7 linked regions of the Homo sapiens genome follow. The protein of the gene in region 5 interacts with the protein of the main gene of each other region in a biochemical or structural test. Each region holds a gene or a part of one and is shown on either strand. Other genes may lie near its edges.

Region 1 (3,500 bases), on a different chromosome or scaffold from region 5:
AATGATTACTGCTATCATCTAAAGAAAACAAGCAGAAAGGTCACCTTGTCCCAGAAACGCTCTTTCACTTTGCCTTTTAACGACTTGAACCTTTAGTGCTGATGGTTTCTAAGTGGCTAAATGCCACTATACATTTGAGTAAGTCCCTGAGATGAAGGATCCTATGTTTAGTAATTTTCTTTCCAGCATGTAATGTTCTATAATGGTTAATGAATTGGATGCTTCAAATATAAAGGTTACTTTAAGCATCAGGAATCAACCATAATTCCAATTTAGGGTGCCCAATTTGAGGGGAAAATCACAGCAGCCTGGGATAAATGAGAATAAACATTGGCATCAGTTTCTATGAAGATCTGGGTGTGACTTCATTCTGTGGACTAAGAGATCTCAGTGTGCATTAGTTACAGGGAAGCTTCGTGCTCTGTGATGGCATGCCAAGGAGCCTGGATACATTTTGACAACGTGAATGAAAGATAAATAACACAGAATAGTTTCACATTCAAGGTATATATGTATATTTAAATGAAGTAGCCATCTTTAGTTACTAAGTTCACACTCAGCATTCTCCGCGCTCAGCCAGGCGGGAGCCCTGGACTTTGGTGTGAAGTCAGAGCTCCTCTGGGATGCGCTGCCTCATTTATCTCCTGTCACTCTTCATTCCTGCAGCACACATCCTCCCTGAAGGATCATCCCGCTATTTAGGATAAGGAGGATTATAATGCATTCTTCCTCATCCCTTCACATGGTATACATTCAAATTTGTGAGTGATGTATTTGCTGTTGTCAGGAAGAGAAAAGCAATTCAGACACACAAGCTGTTTTATATTCTCCTTCGGACCATCAAGTTTGAGAGGAAGAACCATTAAAGTGCCTTAAAATATTACAAACATCCAAGTAACTGCACGACACATTATACTCATTTGTAAGCTAGGTGTTCTGTCTCCCGGAGCACAGGCTAGAAGTGTCATCACTTCTCAGGAACTTGAGCGCCACATCGGTGGAGTCCCTTCCTGGAAAGCGATGCAGCCCGTTCCTCACATTCAATGTAGACACAGACACAAAATCCTCTCCTCCCCTTCCCTTCCACTACAGCTCATATTTATCCACGGAGCGCATGACTCCGTGCGAACGATCATTTCCACACAGTAGCTCCGGTGAAAGATTCTCACCTTCTGAAGATTCCTCTTTTCCCCCGATAAACTGCTACATATTCCCCAATGCTATGTCTCAGACACCCGAGCAGGTGTAGGTGAGAAGAGTGTGAGTTGTTCACTTACCCCGGTTCTCTGAACTTCCATGAACGTGGCTCTTTGGAAGGACTTCTCCCACATGGCCAGCTCGCTGCCAAGCTCCACGTTGAAAACATGGCTCTTCCCATGGCCGGCCACGATGCTGAAGCAATAGGGCCTCTGGTCCTCAAAGTCAAAATCTTGAAGACCCAGATACAAGTTTGCTTGCAACCAGCAGTCCTCTGTGAGCCAGAACTGAAAAACAGAGCATGGATTGGAAACGTGCAGCGCTGGAAGGTCATTCCCATGCTGAGGGCCCTGGTGTGGGGAGAAGGCAGCGTTTGCGTGATCTGGGAAACGGTCTCCTGGGTGCAGACAAGGAGGCAAATTCAGAGCAATGAGCCCTCTCATGCACAGCTGGTGCGGAAGTGGTCCACAGACAAATATCTGTAAATAAATTTTGTCAAATGCTTAATTCTCTGTAAGTGCCTTTCCCTTAAAATACTGGTCACCACACACTTTCCTGTTTTACGGTGAAGAGAAAGATGAAGCTGGGTGTGGTGGCTCACGCCTGTAATCCCAGCACTTTGGGAGACTAAGGTGGGTGGATTGCTTGAGCCCAGGAGTCTGAGACCAGCCTGGGCAACATGGCAAGACCTTGTCTTCACAAAAATAAATGAATAAATAAAATACAACAAATTAGCCAGGTGTGGCAGCACACGCTTGTAGTTCTAGCTATTTGGGAGGCTGAGGTAGTAGAACGGCTTGAGCCCAGAAGCCCGAGGTTACAGAAAGCCAAGATCACACCACCAATGCACTCCAGCCTGGGTGACAGAGGGAAACCCTGTCTCAAGAAAAAAAAAAAAAAGATAAAGATGAAAGTCTTGAGACATTGATGCTTGTGTTTATCATAAAACCAGAAAACACTGAAAATACCACCACCACTCTAACTAAGCGTGCCCCCTGCGCCTCCGAGTCTCTATAGAATTACTGGCTCTTCCTCTCCTTGCGGGTTCATTGTCCTGAGATAAAGGACCGAGTGCCCAAAACGCCTCTGAAGCATGACAAGGCACCCGGCCACCCAGGAGCTCATTCTGCCAACCCAAAGGCCTGACAAAGGGAATGATGTAATGATGTTGTTCCATTTCTGGTTAATCGTTTAACCCAGAGATGTAAGTTACTTACAGCACGTCTATTAATCACTCGGCGATTCGGATGCTGCCAGCCTGTGCTGCATGGAGCAGCCTGGGGAGCTCCCCACTTCTTTCCCCCATCTGCAAGGTTGCACCCCACTTCGGGATTCATTTTATCAAGGGCAGAAGAGAAAGACTGGGGGTCCCAGTTGTCACAATTACTAGGTCAACAGCATGGAGGTGCATGGTGAACGCGCACTCAATACCTGGCTGGCACCTCTCTGTCTCTGTCTGTCTCTCTCTCTCTCTCTGTCTCCATTTCTATGTCTCTGTCTCTCTTTGTGTCTCTTTCTCTCTCTCCATTTCTGTCATTCTGTTTCTCTATTTTATGTCTGTTTCTCTGTCTCTCTCTATCCTTCTCTCTGTCTCTGTCTGTCTCTCTCTGGACCCACCTCAGTTCTCAGCTCACCCATTCATTTACTGGTCCACAGATCCACCCTGAAGAGCCCCCACCAGACACCTTCCTGGGACGCTGCACCCCAACATCAATTTTGCTGCACCAGTCTCTCCCCAGTGAAGGGAAACAAGGGGAGACACCTGGGCTGGGGTTTCCAAAGTCCTGAATGAGAATGTGGTGTTCACCCACAGCCCTGCATATGGCAGCAGAAAGGAAGGGGAGCTGCCCACCTGCTGGGTCTTCCCATCATGATTCTGAGATATCTCCATTCACTTGTGCCAACCAGCCAAGCTGGACAGTCCCCACTCACACTTACGCTCAAGGTCCAGTCCCAAAATCCACATGAACTCAGCAGTTGGCCAAATAGTTTTACTTGAAATATGCTGACACATGCACTCTAGGCACAGGTTTGAGGTAAAAGCTACGACTGGTGTGTCTCAGGTGGGCCTTCTGGACTCTCCGGGGGGATGCCCTGGCTCTCCTGGCCCCGCAGATGGCTCTGCAGGATGACCCTCTGATCATGGAGAGCATTGCACATTTATCCCTGTGCATCATCCAGACATCAAATGCCTTGTGGTGTGTGCACGTGAGAACATGTGTGTGTGTATGTGTGCACATGAGAATGTGTGTGCACACATGAACATGTGTATGTGTGGAAATGTATGTGAACATGAATGTGTG
Region 2 (3,500 bases), on a different chromosome or scaffold from region 5:
TTTTAAAGTATTCGGTAGTAAGAATAAACAATAAAGAACAATTTTAGAAGTATGAATAAAGCAATTTCATAAGGAGAAATTATGAGCACAGCAATATTAATAGTAGCAAAATCTTTGTTATTAGTATCCGAACATCTACACTTACCTTAAAAAGTTAAGCACAAGATCATCCTTGTGCTTTTAAAGCTTCTCCACACTGCTGATTTCTAGCAGTAATTCTAAATTATCGTTAGGATTATTAATTTTTCTCAGTAATAAATCAAGCTTTTCTTAAATCCAGCATTCAACATAGACAAAGTTCATGATCAAGCTTCAGCACTGTAAATGAGGGAAATGTTGATCTATAAACTAATGCACCCAAAGGAAAATTTCTCTCTTTGCATGGCTAATATGGACTTGACATTTATTTTCAAGTAATTGCTTTCTTTTTCTTGCTGAATGACAGCTTTATGAGCGAAGATTTCAAAATTATAAGTTGGTACATGCCTGAAATATGGGCAAGAAATAATTACCTGATTATCCTCCCATTTTAAAAAAGCTGGATAAGTGTTCAGATATACATTACACTTACACTATCTATTAAACTATTTTTTAAATAAATACTTGTTGCATTTTAACAAATTATAAATGCCCTTTCTGTAATATACTTCGACTTAGATGAATTGTTATTCTTTATCAGGCAAAAGACATTATTATAGTAGTTAGCAGTTTTCAAATGACTTTGAACTTCATTCTCTGACCTAAATACCTACAATATTCTCCATTAAGCTTGTGTTATGTACACTGTAATGAACCCTTTAATGATAACACTTACACACTCACACACATACACAGACACACACCCAAACACACATACACGCTCACACATACCAAGGCACTGGAGGGGTTAACACATTAGCATTTTGCTGTTAAAATGTGCTTAATGTACAAACTAGGATTTTATGAATAAATCTCTTACATGTAAACCTAAATTATATGAGAGATAGAAATTTTTAAGTGTTTTTGTTCATTTCAAAGCTTTCTCATTCAAGTAGTCCAAGTTATAACAAATGCCAATGACTAATCACCACATTGTAAAGAAAACATTAAATACTAATTGTTAAACTGATGAAAACGAGAATAGTATTTTGTTACTTTTTGGCTGTTGTACTAATCATGTTAAATAAAAATCACGGCTTATGTTTTTTATCAATAGTATCAAAAATATTCATAATGGTATTGTCATAAGTTTTTAATCAAGCTACATTTTACAACGTAATTTAAAGTATATTAAATGTATGTACACAAAACATTCTTCTAATATAATTAATGGTCAGCATTTCATTATATTTATATATATATACACCCATGTATGCATATAAATACATATGTAGGTGTGTGTGTATTCTCTGAGGAGATATATATTTATACATATCTCATTGTGCACCTTTTCCTTCGTAACACACATGAGCATAGGCTAAATTTTCATAATAACACTAAAAAGATAGCTAATGGTTAATAGGTTTTTTAAATTCTAAAATGGAACGTTTACAAAATTTCACAATTTTTAAATCATTCTATTACAGGTAGGTAAACTGTTGAAACGTTTTTCTTTTGCTTATGGATAATTAGCCCATGTCATATTGCCTTCCAGATTGTGGACACATTCATGTAACCCCAATATGGGGCACACTGAGATTCAGCTCTGGTTGGAAGCAGAAGTTCCATAATGAACCACTTGCCACAGCTGAAAATTCTAAGTTCGATGTATCCCACTGCTTTTTCTCCATAAGTTCAGAAGTGGCCTACTACTGAAGGCTGCTTTTGGTGGGTTTCAATTTTACAATGACTGTTGTATTTGATCAATATAGTGTGCAATAATTCTAAAGTTCTATCCTAATTACAAATGTGTACTTAGTTTTACGGTCAAAATACATTACACTGAAACTGTTTATTGTAATTTGCCACAGTTCTTTGGGTAAGGTATGTTAGATTCAGTTTAACATTTTCCCAGGGACAATTATAAACCCTCACTTTTTCTTTTCAATTTGATGTATTTACAAATTAATCTGATGCAAAATAAATTAATGAATCATGAGTATAAAAACAACTTGATATTAATTTTTTAAATTAGTAAATCTGTCCTTTATAGAAATCACTTTGTTTCCTTCTTGAGTGATTTTTAAAAACATATTTGAAAAAAAAAATTGAATCAATTTATTAGATACTTGGTTATCTCCACAAGGACACACATAATACTTGGTTTACCTGGGAGCATGTGTATCAATAAAAATTTTTTTTTTTTTTTACATACACAGCTGACTTTTTAAAATATCTCAAAAAAGCTGTACTGAAGGACAGAGACTGTGTTCCATGTTATACAACTAGTTGAATAATACCTGGAATCTGAGTAAATTGCACACCTCTAAGGCTTTCAAATTTCCCAGCCTTTCACATTTACATTCTTAGGACAAAATACCTAAAACAACCTGCATAGTTGGCATTACTTAATCACTTTCCATGACAAGGGAGGTTAAAGAATTTTAACTTTTATCTTTAAATATCACCTTTGTTTCTCATAAAATAGTACTAAAATGAAAAAATGTCATTTAATTAACATCTATAATAGCTTTGGGACTGTTTTCGGGGGACATTTTAGTTCATGATTAACTAGTAGACTTCGGATTACAAAGAATTGTTTCTCACACCATATTTGTTTATATTATTTTCTCTACAAAAGGTTTTGGGTTCACTGAAAATTTATGAAACTTTAATTTGATAATAAATCTTATTAGGTAAAATACAAATCTCTTTCAAACCAAGGAAGAAATGAGAGGTTCATGAAATTTTCCATCACTCATAATTAAATTAATACACTGTTGGCATATTTGATTGACTTTGGCAGCTAATAAGACATTTCAATAACAGTGATCCAAGGGAGAATAGTCCATTTCACATTGTATCTATCATGGGTCAATGTAATTATCCTTTGGAAGTTCTTCGGAATATTTACAATAAGATAAAAACAATTGGAATGCCAGTGTCAAATCATGGGATGAGAACACAAGGGCAAATTTACATCAGCAAATTAAAGTGCATCCTTCTTTGATGAGATTTTTTTGCATGCTCCTTGCTGATTTATGGTTTTTAACTCTTTTATGTCCCTCATAATACAAGATAGGGCATTTGTTTTCCTATGACTCTGCCCAACATGTACTAGTCATACAAAATAATCTAAAATACAGAAGTAATCATTTAATAAGTATTTTTATTCATAGGTAGCTTACTATTTTTATGTTATTTACATACTTCTTCAAATAATTTATTCTTTTGTCTCCACTTTTGGTGAAAGCAATACACTTACTGGTACAAAGCAACTGAGTGAGAACAAGCTGTTCTGTTCATGTAGTATATTTCACAGATGTCATCCAGAATAGAAGTGTTTTTGAGGTTCCACATGACCTTCTTTTTCTGCCGAAATTTTGATTTGCCTCCACTGTCGACTTGGTGATGTTATGGTT
Region 3 (2,921 bases), on a different chromosome or scaffold from region 5:
GGGCAGATGCACGGCGGCTGCACCCCGTGGGGAGGCCAGCATGCCTGCGGCAGCTGACCCTGGCAGTGCGAGGGCCCCCCATCCGGAGGCCGCAGCCTAGCACAGTCCCGGGCAGGACAGGGGAGAGCGTCGTGCTCAGGAGAGGAGAAGTGGGCAGTAGAGCTCCCTTTCCGTTCTTGAAGCAGACGTTTAGAGTCTGCTCCTTCCCAGTGTCCGCAAAGAAGGATTACAAGGCGCGCCACCCACACGGTTGGTCTCCCTGGGGCGGTCTGAGGCCTTGCTTGTATACCCAGCTCCTTTGGAGTCAGGGCTCGAGGCCAGGCCCCAAAGGGTCATTTGCTCACCGATCCCCAAAGGCTAAGAACTTGAGGTGCCCTGGGCCCCAGCGAGCCTGTTCCCAGCCCCCAGCACACTTTCCTGGCCCGTGTGTGTTTTGTAAGAAGGGGTGTAGGCCGGGCGCGGTGGCTCAGGCCTGTAATCCCAGCACTTTGGGAGGCCGAGGCGGGCGTATCACGAGGTCGGGAGATTGAGACCATCCTGGCTAACACGGTGAAACCCCGTCTCTGCTAAAAAATACAAAAAAATTCGCTGGGTGTGGTGGCGGGCACCTGTAATCCCAGCTACTGAGGAGGCTGAGGCAGGAGAATGACATGAACCCGGGGGGCAGAGCTTGCAGTGAGCCGAGATTGCACCACTGCACTCCAGCCTGGGCGACAGAGCAAGACTCCGTCTCAAAAAAAAAAAAAAAAGAAGGGGTGCGTGTGTCTTCCCCCATTGAGCTCCTCCTCAGTGAAGCAGAGTGCATCCCTCGCAGTTTCTGCCGAGGCCTGGCCACCCCCAGCCAGCCCCAGTGGATGGGCAAACTGTTGTCACCACTAGAAGTCCAATTTCTCACCCCTCGGGTGTCAGCTGGACTGGAAGCAAAACTAGCACTCAACTGTATTGACTCCTCTGGAGCCAGGGGTGGGGACCTGGAGTCTCAGTCTGCTGCATCTGGAAGGCATCATAAGTGTCCCCAGGCCTGGGCAGGCTGGCCTTCCTCCTTCACTCTAGGAGATGGGCATTTGAAGCAGAACTCTGGGGGGTTTGCCTCTGTCCTTTGCTTTCACCTGATTGTGGGAGGGGAGGTGGGAGGGCAGCGGCTCAGCCTCCTGTTTCTGTCCGCAGATCCACATGAAGACCATGCCCGCCGCCATGTTCAGGCTCCTCACGGGTCAGGAGACCCCGCTGTACATCTAGGCCACCCCAGCCTGGCCACGCAGCCAGGACACCGGGCAGGGCCGCCCGGGCCCAGAGGAGCTGGGAGCCGGGCCGCAGACTTGACCCCGACGCCACAGCCCAGCCACGGACGCTGGCTCCCCAAAGGGTGTGCCCTCACCACCCACTTGATTTTTTTCATTTTGCCAAAAAGGGGTATGTCTTTATCAAAGGAGAGTCACAGAACAAATGTTTGTTTGTAAAGCGTTCCAAGTATTTTGCCACGTTCTGGACTGTCTTCTCCCTGCACAAGCCAGGGTGTGTCTCGGTAGCTGTGCGTGGTGTGGAGTGTGTGTCTTTCCTCCCTGAAGCTGTGCGGAGCGAACTGGCGCCTCCGAGGGACGCGGCTCCCGGGGCAGGGCAGCCGTCACCCCTGCCTCCCGCCCCCTTGGCTGGGACGTCTGGGGTCCTGTGGGGCCCCCACAATGGTCCCAAACAGCTGCCTCTGCCACTGACTGCAGGGACACGGGCAGCCTGGCTCCCAGGACACGACTTGTAATGAAAGTTTGGGGACATGTGATTGATTGATTGATTGTAAATAAAGGATGATGGCCACAACATGAAAACTCCATATTTATTTAGATGCTATTATTACTGTTTGGACTTTTATTTTGGCAGGCTTTTTTCCAGACTCTAGGGTTTTCCAATGTGACTAATGACCACACCTGCCTCTCCCGTCGTCTCTTCTGGGCACCCTCCCACCCGGCTGCATACCCGGGCAGGGCTCCCACAGAGACAAGGAGGGCACAGGTGTCTGCCCCCTCTTTAAAATCGATCTACACACATCCACGCACATGCGACCCCGAGGAAACGAAACCCACTCTAGAAAACGCGACCTTGGCCGCACCTAAAGCAGCCAGCCGTGAGTGCAGACCCCTTGGCCAGCGTGGCGCAGTGGCCCTGAGCAGTAGTGGCATGTGTGTAGATCAAGTCGGATCTAGTCCAGCTCGGTTCATTAGCGATCCATGTAATCTGACGTCATCTTGTCTCGAAGTCTCTTTTTTTGGCCCAGGCCTTGAAGAATACACTGTGACTTAAGAAGCCTTACCACGCAGTAACTAAAGCTTTAGGATGACTGTATTCGAGGAGTGCCGTGTGTTGCATGCAGCTACCCGTAGGAAGACTTCGCGCATATCACTAATAAACCTGAAGTCGTGATGAAAAGCCGTGTGTGTGACTGGTCTGTTACCTCAGCGGCGGGTGCCCGCCTGTCCTTTCATTCACAGCTTGGATGCGGCTCTGCAAATTCACTATGCGGTGGCAGCCACAGCTGCTCTGTGCTCCTCCTGGATCCTGAACCTTGGAAGCTGTCACTAATGAGTTCGGTGGGTGGGTGCTCTGGGCACCAGGTGTCAGCTGGGCAACGCCCCGCTGCAACTGGAGGTGCCAGCAATGCTACCAGGTCACGGGGTCAGCGCCAGGTTCTTGACCCACTTGCCCCAGCAGGGAGACACGTCCGCAGAGCACTCACTAATGGAATGAGGGAGCCAGGGAGCCTTGGGCTTCTTCAGATTTCAACGTAAATGGCCCCTGGGAAAGGTGTGCATGCGTGTGCGTGTGTAAAAGCCGGACCGCCCATCCCAGCACCCTGTCTGCACCTGTGGGTCCTTTGCAGCCTGTCTAGAGTGACAATTCTGGCAGCTCTGCCAGCACTTACCTTTCTT
Region 4 (3,500 bases), on a different chromosome or scaffold from region 5:
AGAAGTAGTTCTGTAATAGGCACAACACAAATAAATTTTGGTCACTTCTTTTTCAACTTTGTTCTAAGCAATCCTATCAAAAGACGACACATAAGATGTACCCAGCCTTCTTTCAAATATCAATGCGATTATCAGGTGAAGTTTATCATCCATGTATCAGGCTGAAGAGTTATTGGCTGAGCCTTTCCAGAGTCCTCCAGCTCTGGCTCTTCTGCTCATTTCCTCCAATCACCTGCCACCTCCCCTACTTTGTCTTTTTGCTATTTCTTTATCCCCTCTGTTTATTGCTTCCTAACATCCCCAAAGTCTGAAGTAAGGTGTTCTCCATGTATTTGGACTTCTTCCATGGACCCAATTATCACACGAAAATTGTAGTCTCCAAGCCAGGACTGGCTATGTAATTTGTGGGGCCACAAGAAAAATCAAAATGCGAGGCTCCTTATGAAAAAATTAGTAAGTATTTCAAGATGGCAATGGCAGAGCATTCAACCAAGCACGAACTCTTCTGAGAGCGGGTCCCTGTGCAACTGCATGGGTTGCACATCCGTGAAGTGAGCCCTGCCTGGCCCTCTAGGAACAAACTCTCATTCTGCTCCTGTACTGTTACCTGCAAGACAGACCCTTTAGTTCCACTTTCCACCACCTGAGAATGGATACTGAGTTAACCATCTGCCAAACGGGCAGGCATTCCCAACATCTCCACTAAGACTGCATTCTTCTCTTTCTTCCCATTTCTGTTACTACCACTCTGCATCAACCCTTACGATCTAATCCCTTCAACAGTCTTTGGTCTGGCTTGTTTCCAACAGCTCATGTTGCAAGTCATCCTAGACACAGAATATAATTCCTAAAATATATTTGTAATATTGTGCATCTTGGTCACACTGACAATACACTTTTCTAGGAAAATAGGATGGAGTCCATCGAATAGCAAATGTATAAAAGCCCATGTGTAAATATCCAGGGAAAGTACATTTTTGTGGTTGGTGAAGTGGTATTTGTGTTGTATTTTCAGAAGCACAGATTATAATGATTTGGTGGATATGCTAAAAAGAAGTATTTGCAATTAGCAAAAGCAGAATGCATCCAGAGACTCACCAGTATAATTCAAGTCAATTCTCTAGGTATATAAACTAATCATTTACTTAATCACCCCAAACTCTTATCTAGGCTTGCTCACGTATACCTGATAATACTGTTGAACACACTGAGGCCCTTTACTGTAAACAGAGTCCACAAATAATGAAATTACTTTTCCAAGGCTAGCAGACACTGCCCTGATTTTACCTTCTCTTATACATGGTCTCTAATAACAAAAGGGAGGAAATATTTTTGGTGGGAGGAAAGGGGGCAAGAAATGGATATAATTTCTCCTTTTCTCATGATCCATAGTGAACTAAACCTTTTCTAATTAAAAAAAAAATTACATCCCTCTTGGGGGAAGATTTACACACAAGAAATTCTATTGTCAAAGCATGTTTTTTTCTTATATTACCAAAAATAAAAACTAGAAGTAGTTTGATTTATTCTTACTACTTTATTTTATATGCTCAAACTAAAATCTGATTCTTACTTTGTTAAAATTGGGAGCAGAAATATGACTACTGAACACCATGGATAAAATATAAGGGTTTTGCACTAAAAATCACATACATGAAAATCTTTCTTAAGTCTAACTTTTCAAAAGCCTTTCTAAATTAATGTGTAATTCTGAAAAACTCCCTTAAGAAACTGTGGCTCTAAGATTAATAATATATTTAATCTGGCACATTAAACAAAAATAGCTGCTGTATAAACATGCAGGGGTGAAACTGCAGATAGGACTCGTCATTCATACAGTCAACAGCAATTCTGTTGTTAATTACCCACTGGGAAGGTATGTTATGTCAGCCTCCATAAACAGACATTCTACCCAGACACTTCTGTTTTTCCTTCAAATGCTACTAAAATACATCTTAATGTTCTCTTTTGCAGGTTGGCTTAACTTTTCTTTTCCAATTGATTTATGATGGTTGCTTCTCCACCATTCATGTATTCAACAACTCCCCAAAAGGACCCAGCATTTAAAATTAAGCTCTGTATCTGTAACAAATAGTAATGCATTCCCTAATTGGTATAATCATGGTAGCAGTTCCCCAGTGAAAGTTATTTTGAATCTGGAATTGAAAACATAAGGATGGCGGGAAAATAGAAAACATGTACTTACTACTAATCGCTGAACAATTTCCCTGATGTCTTCAGCACAGTTGTCTACCGAGGACAGGAGGACACATTCTCCTCTTTCGTAAAACACTTTGATACTCACTAATCCAGATGTCCACCCAATCACATCCCTGCAGGAACAGTTGAATACAACATTCTTGGAATCCTTTTCAATCAACATGATGAACTCATTGGAGATCCCGAGAAGACATTCAATGTCAGCAGACTGGCCGAAGTCCCGGGCTATCACGTGCCACATGATGGCCCCAATGCTAAACAAGTGGGCATCCTTCCTTGGCTTTACCTTCTCCTTTTTCTTCGCACCCAGCGTAATGAAGCTGAACTTCACAGAGGTATCCACGGTGGCGGTTGTGACAAAGTTCTCCGCCAGATCTTTCAAGTACTCCTGCCTCGTTCGAGTGGCCATTGCTCGAAACTTTTCTGATTTATGGGCTGCATTTTCTGCATTGATTACTTTGGCTAAAAGGAAGTCCCGGAACACGGCTGACTTTGGAAAAGTTACACCTTTGGGAATCGGTGGGCCAAATGGTGGCACATCTTTTGATCTGGAAACTCCAACACTGAGGAAGTAAAAACAGAAACAAAATGAGATGAGCTATGATACCATAATATGTATCTTTCCGAATTTGACATATATATACACACACACACACATATACATACACACACACACACACATATACATACACACATACACACACACTTTCAACTTAACTGGTTTATTCTGCAAGTTCTTGTTCTCCTAATTGCTGCATACCCAGGGTTTGTTGTTATTGTTGTTTAAGCAAAATGCTTTAAACTTAGTAGACAGGAGGTGTAATGGGCTGAATTATGTCCCTCTCAAAATCCACACGTTGACAAGATAACCCATAGTTCCTGGGAATGTGACGCAATCTGGAGAAAGGACCCTTAAGGAGGTGGCTAAGTGAAACCATTCGGGTGGGCCCTAATCCAACTGACTGGTGTCCTTATAAGAGGAGAAAATTTGGGCTTACAAAGAGACACCAGGGATGTATGCACACAGAAAGAAGACCATGTGAAGACACAAGGAGAAGACGGCCATCCATAAGCCAAGGGGAGAGGTCTCAGGAGAAACCAATCCTTGCTGACACCTTGATCTTAGACTTCCAGCCTCTAGAACTCTGAGAAAATAAAAGTCTGCCGTTTAAGCCACCTAGCCTGTGGCATTAGTACGGCAGTGCTACCAAACTAATACAGGGGGTAACACATCCACAGCATGTGGAATAAGCAGGCTGGCACTCTATAACTCTGTGGGG
Region 5 (3,500 bases):
CTCACCTCTCGGGGGATGCGGCCATGGTACCAGGCATGGCTGCGGAGATCCGTGCTGCTGAGTTTGAGCTCCTCCTCCAATTCCTTGTGGAGTTTCTCTGGCGATGAGTCCAGGATGTACTTCTCCTTGGAGAACTGGGTAGAAAACAGCAAGAGTTGGCATCCAACTTAAAGTCTCCTTCTTCTTTCCCTCCCAACTTCATTCTACCATGGATGAACTCCTCCTATCCTGGGACTCTGGGAACACTAAGGCACAGGTGCCAGACCCTTTCCCATGGGTCCCAGAAAGAGTAAAGAAATCTCAATTCCTTCCACAAAACAATGCCAGCTGCATTCCAGGCCCTGTGCTATATGCCAGGGGTGGATGCAGTGATATATAAACCAAGCCCGGCCCTCAAGGCAGTGCCTAGTCTGAGGAGAGGCAAAAGCAACAGGAGCCTCTGAGTAGAGTGCGGTCAGCACCACAGCGCTGGACAGCGGCAAAGAGCCGGGTGGCTTTTACAAGCGGGATTAAGCCTGGGCACGACAGAGGGGTCTCGGAAGCCTTCCTGGAGGAGATGGCAGTAAGAAAACACTCATTATATACCAAGGGCACCAAACTGTTCTTGAAGTGTTGGAGGGGGATTTCTACAGGTGAATCTTGGAGGTAAGGCAGCAGGTAACTGCAGGAAAAGCTATGAACAAAACCACAGAACTGGTTGGACAAGGATACGTTCTGGGATGGTGCATTCTACAATGCAAGGGTGGGGAAGGGACTATAAACAGGGACACGGGGACCCCAAACAGACATCTGCATTGCCCCTTACAATTTCCAAGGCCATTTCTCCCTTGAAATCCTCAGCAATCCTCACCCAGATGGGGAGACCATGGCCCAGCAGGGAAGCCCAAGGCCACTGAGGGAGATAATGTCCAGTACTCCACCCTCCCACCTGGCCCAGAAACTCCTGGTTTCTTGATTACTGTGGCCTGAAGTTGGAGGCTGATGGATCCCAGGGGCCCTAAGGGAAGAGGAAAGGAAGCCCTTAATGCCAGGTGTACGCCCACCAGAGCCCAGCCCAATCCTGGCTGTGCCTTGTGAGCTCTCTGGGCCTCAATTTCTTCCTCATTAAAATGGGTACAGTGACAGAACCTGCCTCACCTCACTGCGAAGATGAAAAGAGACAGCACTCCAGAGTACTACTAGCACATGGACATCCTCATCACTGCGAGGACATGGGATGGTTCTTCCTCTCCTTCCCCCACCTCCAGGCCCCAAAGATGGCTACTCCAAGACAGACAGACCCCAGCGCTGGCCAGAAGGCAGGACAGATGAGGGAGGGCAGTAAAGGGCCTTCATCCCAGGTGAGTCTCTCCCTGGGGCCCCTCGCTCCTGAGAGTCCGAAGGTCCTCCAGTCCACTCCCTGCCTCCTCAGACTATCCACAGATCTCGCCTCCTAATTCTGTGGCTACATCCCTCACCCCTCTGCTCCCATACTGCCTGGGTTTAGCCTAGTCTGCATTGCTCCCAAGACACCATGATTCCCAGTGTCAGAGATATCTAGAATCTCTGATTCCATTCAACATTGACTAGGTCCCTATCCTGGTCCTGTGCCAGGGCTGAGGACCCAAGGTGGCCTCTGCCCTGGGGGAGGCCTTGCAGACACTGACAATCAATTCCAGGTTTCCTGAATGTCCCGAGATGCACAGAGATGGTGCACCACCAAACTAGTCAGGGGGCAGAGTCAGGAATCACTTCCCTGAAAAGGTGGTGTTTCTGCTGAGGTCTGAAGGACTGGGTGAGCCAAGCAAAAGCACCAGGGTGGAGAGGGCAGGTGGACAGGTGGACAGGGAAGAGCTTCTGGGGAGAGAGCGGCAAAGTCAGGGTCCTACGGGCAGAGCCAAGGGGAGGGAGGGGAGATGAATAAGAAGCTTCCAAGGGGCTGTGGGGGCAGGGGCAGGTGTGGCACGGCTGCCTCAGGGAGCTGGGGTTTATCTGGAGGCCACAGCAGAGCCATGGAGGGGTTTGGAAGTGTTGGGGCAGGTTTAGTCCACTTATGGAGAGCAGCCTAGGGTTTTCCAGGCAGTGGCAGGGCAGATAAGGCGTGGGCAGAAGGAGTGGGGGAAAGGGAGTTTAGATGGCCATTGATTCATGTGGGGGAGCAGGGCGGAGGGGTCAGAGAGGACTCCTGGCCGAGATCCTAGAAGGATGATTGGGACATGCTCTGAGTGGGCAAGGCTGGGGCAGGAGCAGCTTGGTGGTGGACCCATGAAAATTTGGACCTTGAGGAGCCTGCAGGGCTCTGGGGACAGATGGTGGGAGTGGGCGGTTTGCACAGGTGCTCAGGAGAAAGGCGGGGCCTGGGAGTGGGAATTCTGCACATCCTCCGGCCGTGGTAGAAACCGATGCCCCCGAAGGGCAGAGAGGCCCAGGGCTGGGCTAGGATCTGGGCCTTCTCAGACACCTACACTTCTCCAAGGGGTCCCCTACTTCTGGGGGTCCCTGGTCTCTCTCCCTCTCACTCTGCGGTGCTCACACCAGGCTAGTCCTCTTTCCTCATATCACACCAAACCCTGGAAAGGGGAGAGTGGGCGTCACAGGGAAAAAGGGAACCAAGACCTCAGCCTTCTGGCGTCCTCCTTGACAAAGGGCATGCGATTGAGACCTTCCCCCAGTTCCACAGCTGGAGCTAGAGGGACGTGGGCAAAGGAGGGAGGAGGCTGGATGTTGAAGAACCGCCCCAAGGCTGCCACTGTGTGACCTTGAGCCAGTCACTTCCCCTCTCTGGGCCTGGGCAGCCTCATCCGTTAAAGGGGCTGGGAGACTGGGCTCCCCTTTTCCAGCTTAATCACTGGTCACGGAGAGTTTGGGGGGACCAACTTGGTCCTCCCACACACCTGAGGGTGAGGAATCCTAGGGTCCCTGTGCCTTGATCTCACCTCGACCTGGGAGCCCCCAGTTCCCTAGAGTTGGGGGTGCTGGGGTGCGAATGCAGCATCCCTGCGCTCGGCGCCCTGCTATTGGCCAGAGATGATCTCACCGCCTCCCGGCCTGCGCGCGCCTGATTGGCCGGTGCGGGGATGCTGCGCTCCGCCGCCGGCGGGGCAGTCCTTCAGGCGGGCTCCGCGAGCGTGTGTGAGCCTGGGGGAGCGAAGAGCCGACGCGCCTGGCATCTCCCAGGGGGCTCAGGGGGCAGGAGCGCGGAGACCCCCGGACAGGGTCTTAACCCCTTCCCGCCAGCCCGAGCCCAGCATCCCCTCCAGCTCCCCTCGGCGTCCCAACCCCAAGCAAAGCCATCCCCAAAGGATGCTCCGCAGAGAGGCGGGGTCCGGGTCCTCCCCTCCACCCCCTTCCGTTTAACCCTCTCACCGCCGCGGCGCCGTCCTGCACTGCCCGGCCAGCTGGGCTGGGAGAGACCCGCGCCCCAGGCATGTCCAAGCCCACCTAGAGGGCGGGAGGGTGGCGGGCGCTCTGGCCCCAACCCTGGCATCCGAAGCATCCCCCGCGTTTCCTGCTCCTCACTC
Region 6 (3,500 bases), about 18 Mb from region 5:
AGCCATGTGACCCTGGGCAAGTTACTCAGCCTCTCCTGACCTCAGCTTCTTCATCTGTGAACTGGGAGTTAGAACAAATGACCACAAAGTTCTGTTCCGTTTTCATCATCTGTAACTCTCTAAGACAGCGCTGTCCAGCAGGACTTCCTGCCGTGGTGAAATGTTCTCTGACTGCACTGTCTCATACGGGAGCCACTGGCCGCATATGGCTAGTGAGCATGTGAAGTATGGCTGGTTTCTTGTCTTAATTTATTTAAATTTAAGTAGCCACATATAACTAGTGGCTACCATACTAGACAGTGCAGCTCCACGATACAGAAGAAACTATATTCGATAGAGGAAAATGTAACAAGATCTCAGCGTGGCAGTTCATGGATGTCACAGGCAAATCATGCCAACTAGGAATAATATAAATTCTCCTGAACGCACAACAACAACAGTCCTGTTTCCTTTGAGGAGGCAAGAGTCCTATGAAGCAGAACCATCCGCAGAAGTGAGACAGAAGGAAAAAAGCTTTCAGAAGGGATGGGCTGTGCATCTGCATGAGCTTGCCTGGCAGAGCCTGGTTCAGTAATGAAACCACCAGAGGAGCTGGACACATTTCCCTGTCACCCTTCTAAAGCAGCGGGGAAGGGAGCAAAGTTTTCAGCAGTTTCCAGATCCACCCTGCCTCCTATCCCTTTTCCCCAAAACCATGTGACAGTGTCTAGGCCAGATGCGGTCAGGGGTGGTCAGTGGGCCCTGGGTGTACTCAAATCCCGCTGACAACCTATGCAGCTGAGGTTCCAGGGAAACATACAGCCCCCAGCTGCCAGGCCCCTACAGTCAGTAGTGTTTGCTCTAATAAAATATTAACCCAGTTATTAATATCTCCTCCTTCCCCATGATGAAGGAGTTTATCCGAGAACAATCCGGCACAAAGCTACCTGACCCAGAAGTCATCCAGTTCTGTGTCTCCATCTTCAAATGCTCCAGGCTCCTGCTCACCTGACGGCGTTGATCAGCAGCTCTTAGATGACTTCCACAGGGTGACCAAAGGGGGCTCCACCGAGGACGCCAGCCAGTACTACTGTGACAAGGTGAGCGAGCGCAGGCAGCCGGGTGATCCACACACCCAGGGCTTCCCGGCCTCTTGTGGGCAGCTGAGTAGCTCTAACTAAATGAAAATATCTTATCACCAACTGCTGGAGAGAGATGTGATGCAAATGACCACTTTCAAACCGTTTTCCAGAATGATAATGGTGACAGCTACTTAGTCTTGATCCGTATCACACCAGATGAAGATGGAAAATTTGGATTTAATCTTAAGGTATGTTGTGTATTTATAAAGGAAGTTTTGTGCTGGGAAGCAATCTTTCAATGAGTTTTTAATTTGCATTACAAATGTGCTGCATTCCTGAGCTACATAAGGAAGTTGGTTCAACCCTCAGAATTGAGAGTTGGGGGTTTTTTTTGTTTTTGTTTGGTTTGAGATATTTGGGGTTTTTTTTGTTTTTTTTTAAAAACTCACTTTATCGCCCAAACCTAGAGTGCAGTGGCACGATCGCAGCTCACTGCAGCGCTGACCTCCCCAGGCTCAGGTGATCCTCCCACCTCAGCTGGGACTATAGGGATGCACCACCATACCCAGCTAATTTTTTTCATATTTTTTGTAGAGATGGGGTTTCACCATGTTGTCCAAGCTGGTCTCAAACACCTGGCAATCTACTCACTTTGGCCTCCCAAAGTGCCGGGATTACAGGCGTGAACCACCGCACCCAGCCTAGAATTGAGAGGTTTTTTTTAATGTGGCCTTAACAGCTGCCGAAGGCCAAGTGCCTGCTCTGTGCCTGGCATTGGCTATCCACTAGATTCATAGCACCTTCTTAAGTTCTGATAACAAGTGGTAAGGTCAGTATTTTTAAACCCATTTTGCAAATGAATACTGAGGTTCCCAGAAATGAGGGCACACAGTTGGCAAACAGATCTACCCACTTCAGGAATGCTATTAAGAGAACCCCTCAGCATTGCTAAAGCTGATAAGAGAAAAACAATTCAAGTTCAACCTGCAGGGCCACCACTCTCCTCCAGGCACCTTTAAGCAGGATCTGCAAACTAAACCCACAGGCCAAATCCCATCTGTTTCTGTAACTAGTTTTTTTGGTAACAGCCACAGCCATTTGTTTACTGGTGGGTTAATGACTGCAGAGTTGAGCAGTTGAATCAGAGCCCTCACTCCCACAAAGCCTCTCTGGCCCTTTACAGAAAACGTTTACTCATCCCTACTCTAGGACAAAGTGAGGGCAGGTGGTCGCCTACCCCCCAGCTGCCATCATGCACAGCCTCATCTGCCCCAGCAGCTGTGTTGAGGACCAGCGCTCACAGGCCAGATGCGCTCACAGGGTGTGCCCCCTTCCCAGGCCTCGCTCGCCTCTGCTGAAAGCCCCTATATATATATATATAAAGCCCATATATATATATATTAAAGCCCATATATATATATAAAGCCCATATATATATATATATATATATTTTTTTTTTTTTTTTAATTATTATAAGTTCTAGGGTACATGTGCACAACGTGCAGGTTTGTTCTAGCAGCACTCGAAGACATGCTGTGGAGTCCCTCTCTGGGGGCATCTGCGTTTTTAAGGAGGAGCTTCTCTCTGAGTGTATCTGTTAGTTCATGGACTGTGGGGATGGCAGAGGGAGGCTTCTGAACAGAGTCCTGGTCAGCCCGCTGGATCCAGAGGGGTCAGGAATTTGTTCCATATTTCTGAAATGACGTGTGATTCGAATCAGTCATAGTGAAGTTTGAAGCCTCCCTGTACCAAAGACTCACATTTATTGGTACCTCCATGTTGTTGATGCTGTGAGCTACTCGTTTTTTTGTTTGTTTGTTTGTTTAACTTAAAAAACTTTGTTTTGTTTTTATTTTAAAATGTTTACAGGGAGGAGTGGATCAAAAGATGCCTCTTGTGGTATCAAGGATAAACCCAGAGTCACCTGTAAGTAAATACATTCCATGTTATTCCTCGTGTTTGTTTGTTTCCCCCTAATTCTAACAGGTTTCTGTTTCTGAGTCCTGTTTCTTTTTTTGCCAGAGCAAAGAATGTGCTTAGATATACATCACCATGTTTTCTATAACCTTGCGGCTCAGTGTGGTCTTTGAAGCCATAGCACCCATGTTACCTGGGACCTCATTAGAAATGCAGCATCTCTGGCCTCAGCTTAGGCCTGCTGAACCGGAATCTGCATTTTTAACAAGAGCCTTGAGTGGTTAGTGTGCATTCAATTTTGAGAAGTCCTTTTCAAGAGAAGGAAACTTAGGCAGTCTGCTGTTCTGCTCACTCTAAGTGGGCACGTGGGCCCTGTGCCTCTTCTCACCATCTTTCCACCAGTGCCCCTTTTGTCATCTGTGTAGGCCTCCTAAGAAGAGCATTTGCTTTGTTTTTCTTTCAAATTTATTTTATTGTTTTTAGGCCAGGCATAGTGGCTCACACCTGTAATCCCAGCACTTT
Region 7 (3,500 bases), on a different chromosome or scaffold from region 5:
CCCTCTGCCCTGAACACAATTCCCTCTCCTCTTCATCTAATAAGGTTGTAGAACAGACCTTAGCTCCTCCTGACTTCCCAAACTCTAGTATCTTTCACCTGCTGTGCAAGCACTAGCCTAGTGTCCAACACATGGTAGATACACAATCAATATTTACATGGTAAGCGGCCAGAGGTACGACATTACTGGTATTAGATAGACACAGACTCTTTCTCCATCTGGTCTCTGGCCTGAATCTAGGATAGGGTCTTAACTTCTTTTGGGCCATGGACCACATTTTCTCCATTCATTCTCTCGACTGACAAAATAATAATCAATCAACTCCTACTATATGCCAGGTACTCTTCCAAGCCCTGGGCATGCAGCACTGAATAAGACAGCAAGTTTCTTCTGGAATTTACATTCTAGTGGAGGGGATAGAAGATAAACAACTAATACACATAATCAAGCCAGATGATTTCAAAGAGCAAACATGACCTGAAACCTGACACCTGAAAGGTGAGTGATTCTTGCCTTAAGTATCGGGTAGGAAGTAGCCTGGGCAGAGAGAACAGTAAGTGCCAAGGCCCAGGTACGGTTACAGCATAGTGGGGTCCAGGAGAAAGATATGAGATGAGAATAAAGGGAGTTCTGCATGAGACTTTGGAGGTCTAAGCCCTCTGAGGCCCATTTACAGACTCTGCTCAAGAACCCCTGCTGAAGGGTTCTCAAAATACTTACTCTTTCACTTGCACAGTGGTGGCGTAGTTGGAGCAGGCACTCTCCACGGACACGGAGAAGCCCCGCCTGCCTTCAGTGGTGGCCGGCATGGAGATGAGCGTGACAGAGTAGGGCAGCTGCTCCTGAACAGACTCTGTGGAGAGTCTCTCAAACATGGGTGCCAGCACCACCTCATTGTGGCACTTCCCACTGGGGAGAGGGCACAGGGGGGAATAAGATGCTAGAGTCCCACACAGAAGCCCCCCAGCAACCACTGCACCATGTGGCTTTAAGCAACAGTACCCATAGTCTCACTACCACCCTCTTTGTCATGATTCTAGCTGGCTGCTCAGAATGAGGAGCCTGGGTTCTCAGGGTGGGCTGGGACTGGGGGTGCTGAGCTAGATCTGCAGCAAGTGGTATATTTGGAAAAACACTGGCCTGGGTTGGGGTGAGATGGTCTGGGTTCTCTTCACTCTACCTTTGACTCACAATGAGAACCTTGCCCTTGTACTATTCTATTCCATGGGCCCCAGGCTGACTTCTTTTATCAACCAAGGTGGTTGGACAGGGTGAGCTCTAAGGGGTCTTTGACTTTAATGTTCTGGGATCGTCCTTGAAGAGTGCCTCCCACTGGGAGGATTGCAGGGCAGAGTGAAGACATTTTCAAGGTTGGTAAGGAAAAAGGGTAGAGACATGTGTAAATCATTCTGCTTACAAGTTAAAGAGCTGGTTAAGAGCACTGCTGTGGTAAGAATCCAATGCTCTGACTACCCTAACACTCCTTCTGCCCAACTCACCCTGCCACTGTCCCTCCCCGCCAGCCACTCTTATATGGGAGAGGATAGACAAAGGACCACTATCTTACCAGTAGAGGGTGGCATGCTGCACCAGTGCATATGCATCCCCATCCTCAATGATCACCTTGCAGCTCATACAGGCAAAGCACTCTGGGTGGTACTTGAACTCCCCAGCCACCTGTGAGCAGGTGGGGAGAAGGGTGTACAAAGGGAGGAAGGAAGTGAGTTATCACTGTTGCTGGAGTGAGGACAGGGGTGGGTGAATGACCTCCAAGCAAGGCCCCCGTCAAAATCCACTCTTTCACTCTCTGCCCTAGAGCTTCCAAAGGAAGTGTCAGATTGGTACCTCCTGTCATTTCTGAGACTGCACAAAACTGTTTTGGTCTCAGTTATGAGAAGAAATCCCCAGAAGTAATCATCCCCACTAAAAAAGATCAGTTCTTCCAATACAGGGTTGGCAAGTCTGTCACTATGCTTAAAGTCGTTTGTCCAGAGCAGGTATAGGAGGTAGCCCCTCTCTCTGCCAGCCTATTCCAGAGTCTCCTTTTCTGATTCCCTAAAGACAACCTAAGTATATCCTCCTCTCAGCCTGTAACACTCTCCTTGGAGGTCCTTATCCAACTATATTGTGTCTCCTCTCTGCCTGCCTCTCCTCCCACTCCCAACGTTCAACTATTAAGTCTTTGAGGGAAGGATCTTACCTTTCACTTAGTAGGTGCTCAATTGATACCTGCTAGTTGAATGAATGAATAAATAAAGGGAGATGCCCTGGCTGATGGAAAGACTAAAAGATTAACAGGCCACAGGGAACTGGAAGCACTGTCAATGGACTCTGAAGACCAAGAGGGGCAGATATGAAGGGATTCACTCACCATAAAAGGCCCTGTCATCAGCAGGGAGCACCCATGACAGAACTCCCCAAACTTCCCCCAGTAGTCCTTGGGGCAGTAGAGCTTCCCATCCTTCTCATAGTACCAGTTGGTGAGGGAATCCTGGCATTCTGAACACCTGAAAGGCAAGACAAGAACTGAAATTCTCCTGGATCCCTGGAACCAGGCCACATAAGCTGTCCCTGGTTCCTAGGTATGACAACAAAATGGACAGTCCTCTTTGATCCAAAGCCAAGATGGGGCAAAGTTACAGCCTTGTGCTATCTCCCCAAGGGAAGCTGGTTCAGACTGAACAAGGCCCCAGAAACCAGCTCTGTGTTGCCTGCCTCAGTGGACAGACTAGTGTTTCATAACCTCTTTGGGTCTTGGGGCCCTCTGAGAATTTGATAAAAGCCAAGAAGCCTCCCCTAGAAAAATGAATATATAAAGAAGATGTGTATATAATTTAGGTGGGGGACAGGGTGTATATATAAAGGATTCTCTGAAACCTATTTATGGCACCAGTTAAGGATCTCTGGTCTTGACAGATACTTCAATGAACAAAAGCAGTTTAATCATCTCCACTCTTCAAAACTGACCCATCACCAACAGCGTTACCAATGTAATGTTCTTGCCAAAAATACGTTAAGTATAAAAAAACTAATCAGGCAAATCTAGAATGTGGGTTATTCTATAAGAATAACCGGTCTTGACTCTTCTAAAAAGTCATGGGGAGAAGAAAAGGCACAGATTTTAAAAACCCTAGAGACACAGCAACCAAATACAATGCCTCAAACTTGGATTCAAATTTAGATTAAAAAAGGAAACAGCCATGAACATTTTTTGGAACAACTGAGGAAATATGGATTTGGACTATAATATTATATTGTAAAATTGCCGTGAATTTTCTTAGATGTAATGATATCTGACTTATATAGGAGAATTCTTAGCAGAAACATATTGAACTGTTCAAGGGTAAAATCAAGATGCCTTTAAGTTACTCTGAAATAGTTCAGCAAAAATAAATAAATAAAAGTATACAGATAGAGGGAGAGAGATATATACAAAGTGGCATAACATTAACAAATCATGAATCTATGTGAAAGGTATGTAGGTGTTCTTTGAACTACAT

What was found.
Region 1: the proteins of SH2D3C (region 5) and SNTG2 interact in a test that uses a peptide from one of them, tested with the Homo sapiens proteins (one large-scale study listed by IntAct).
Region 2: the proteins of SH2D3C (region 5) and SNTG1 interact in a test that uses a peptide from one of them, tested with the Homo sapiens proteins (one large-scale study listed by IntAct).
Region 3: the proteins of SH2D3C (region 5) and APBA2 interact in a test that uses a peptide from one of them, tested with the Homo sapiens proteins (one large-scale study listed by IntAct).
Region 4: the proteins of SH2D3C (region 5) and SIPA1L2 interact in a test that uses a peptide from one of them, tested with the Homo sapiens proteins (one large-scale study listed by IntAct).
Region 6: the proteins of SH2D3C (region 5) and PTPN3 interact in a test that uses a peptide from one of them, tested with the Homo sapiens proteins (one large-scale study listed by IntAct).
Region 7: the proteins of SH2D3C (region 5) and LIMK2 interact in a test that uses a peptide from one of them, tested with the Homo sapiens proteins (one large-scale study listed by IntAct).

Annotation. Positions count from the first base shown.
Region 1 is NC_000002.12:1,265,349-1,268,848, reverse strand, and holds part of SNTG2 (gamma-2-syntrophin), read right to left. Parts: intron 1,485-3,500; coding exon 1,278-1,484; intron 778-1,277; coding exon of another isoform or gene 754-777; exon of another isoform or gene 1-753. UniProt on the Homo sapiens protein: Adapter protein that binds to and probably organizes the subcellular localization of a variety of proteins. May link various receptors to the actin cytoskeleton and the dystrophin glycoprotein complex.
Region 2 is NC_000008.11:50,792,907-50,796,406, reverse strand, and holds part of SNTG1 (gamma-1-syntrophin), read right to left. Parts: 3' UTR 1-3,500. UniProt on the Homo sapiens protein: Adapter protein that binds to and probably organizes the subcellular localization of a variety of proteins. May link various receptors to the actin cytoskeleton and the dystrophin glycoprotein complex.
Region 3 is NC_000015.10:29,115,895-29,118,815, forward strand, and holds the end of APBA2 (amyloid-beta A4 precursor protein-binding family A member 2), read left to right. Parts: intron 1-1,167; coding exon 1,168-1,239; 3' UTR 1,240-2,421; downstream 2,422-2,921. UniProt on the Homo sapiens protein: Putative function in synaptic vesicle exocytosis by binding to STXBP1, an essential component of the synaptic vesicle exocytotic machinery. May modulate processing of the amyloid-beta precursor protein (APP) and hence formation of APP-beta.
Region 4 is NC_000001.11:232,462,634-232,466,133, forward strand, and holds part of SIPA1L2 (signal-induced proliferation-associated 1-like protein 2), read right to left. Parts: intron 2,784-3,500; coding exon 2,207-2,783; intron 1-2,206.
Region 5 is NC_000009.12:127,751,167-127,754,666, forward strand, and holds part of SH2D3C (SH2 domain-containing protein 3C), read right to left. Parts: intron 135-3,500; coding exon 6-134; intron 1-5. UniProt on the Homo sapiens protein: Acts as an adapter protein that mediates cell signaling pathways involved in cellular functions such as cell adhesion and migration, tissue organization, and the regulation of the immune response.
Region 6 is NC_000009.12:109,407,808-109,411,307, reverse strand, and holds part of PTPN3 (tyrosine-protein phosphatase non-receptor type 3), read left to right. Parts: intron 1-892; coding exon 893-1,079; intron 1,080-1,231; coding exon 1,232-1,309; intron 1,310-2,930; coding exon 2,931-2,987; intron 2,988-3,500.
Region 7 is NC_000022.11:31,257,298-31,260,797, reverse strand, and holds part of LIMK2 (LIM domain kinase 2), read right to left. Parts: intron 2,508-3,500; coding exon 2,372-2,507; intron 1,678-2,371; coding exon 1,568-1,677; intron 910-1,567; coding exon 721-909; intron 1-720. UniProt on the Homo sapiens protein: Serine/threonine-protein kinase that plays an essential role in the regulation of actin filament dynamics. Acts downstream of several Rho family GTPase signal transduction pathways.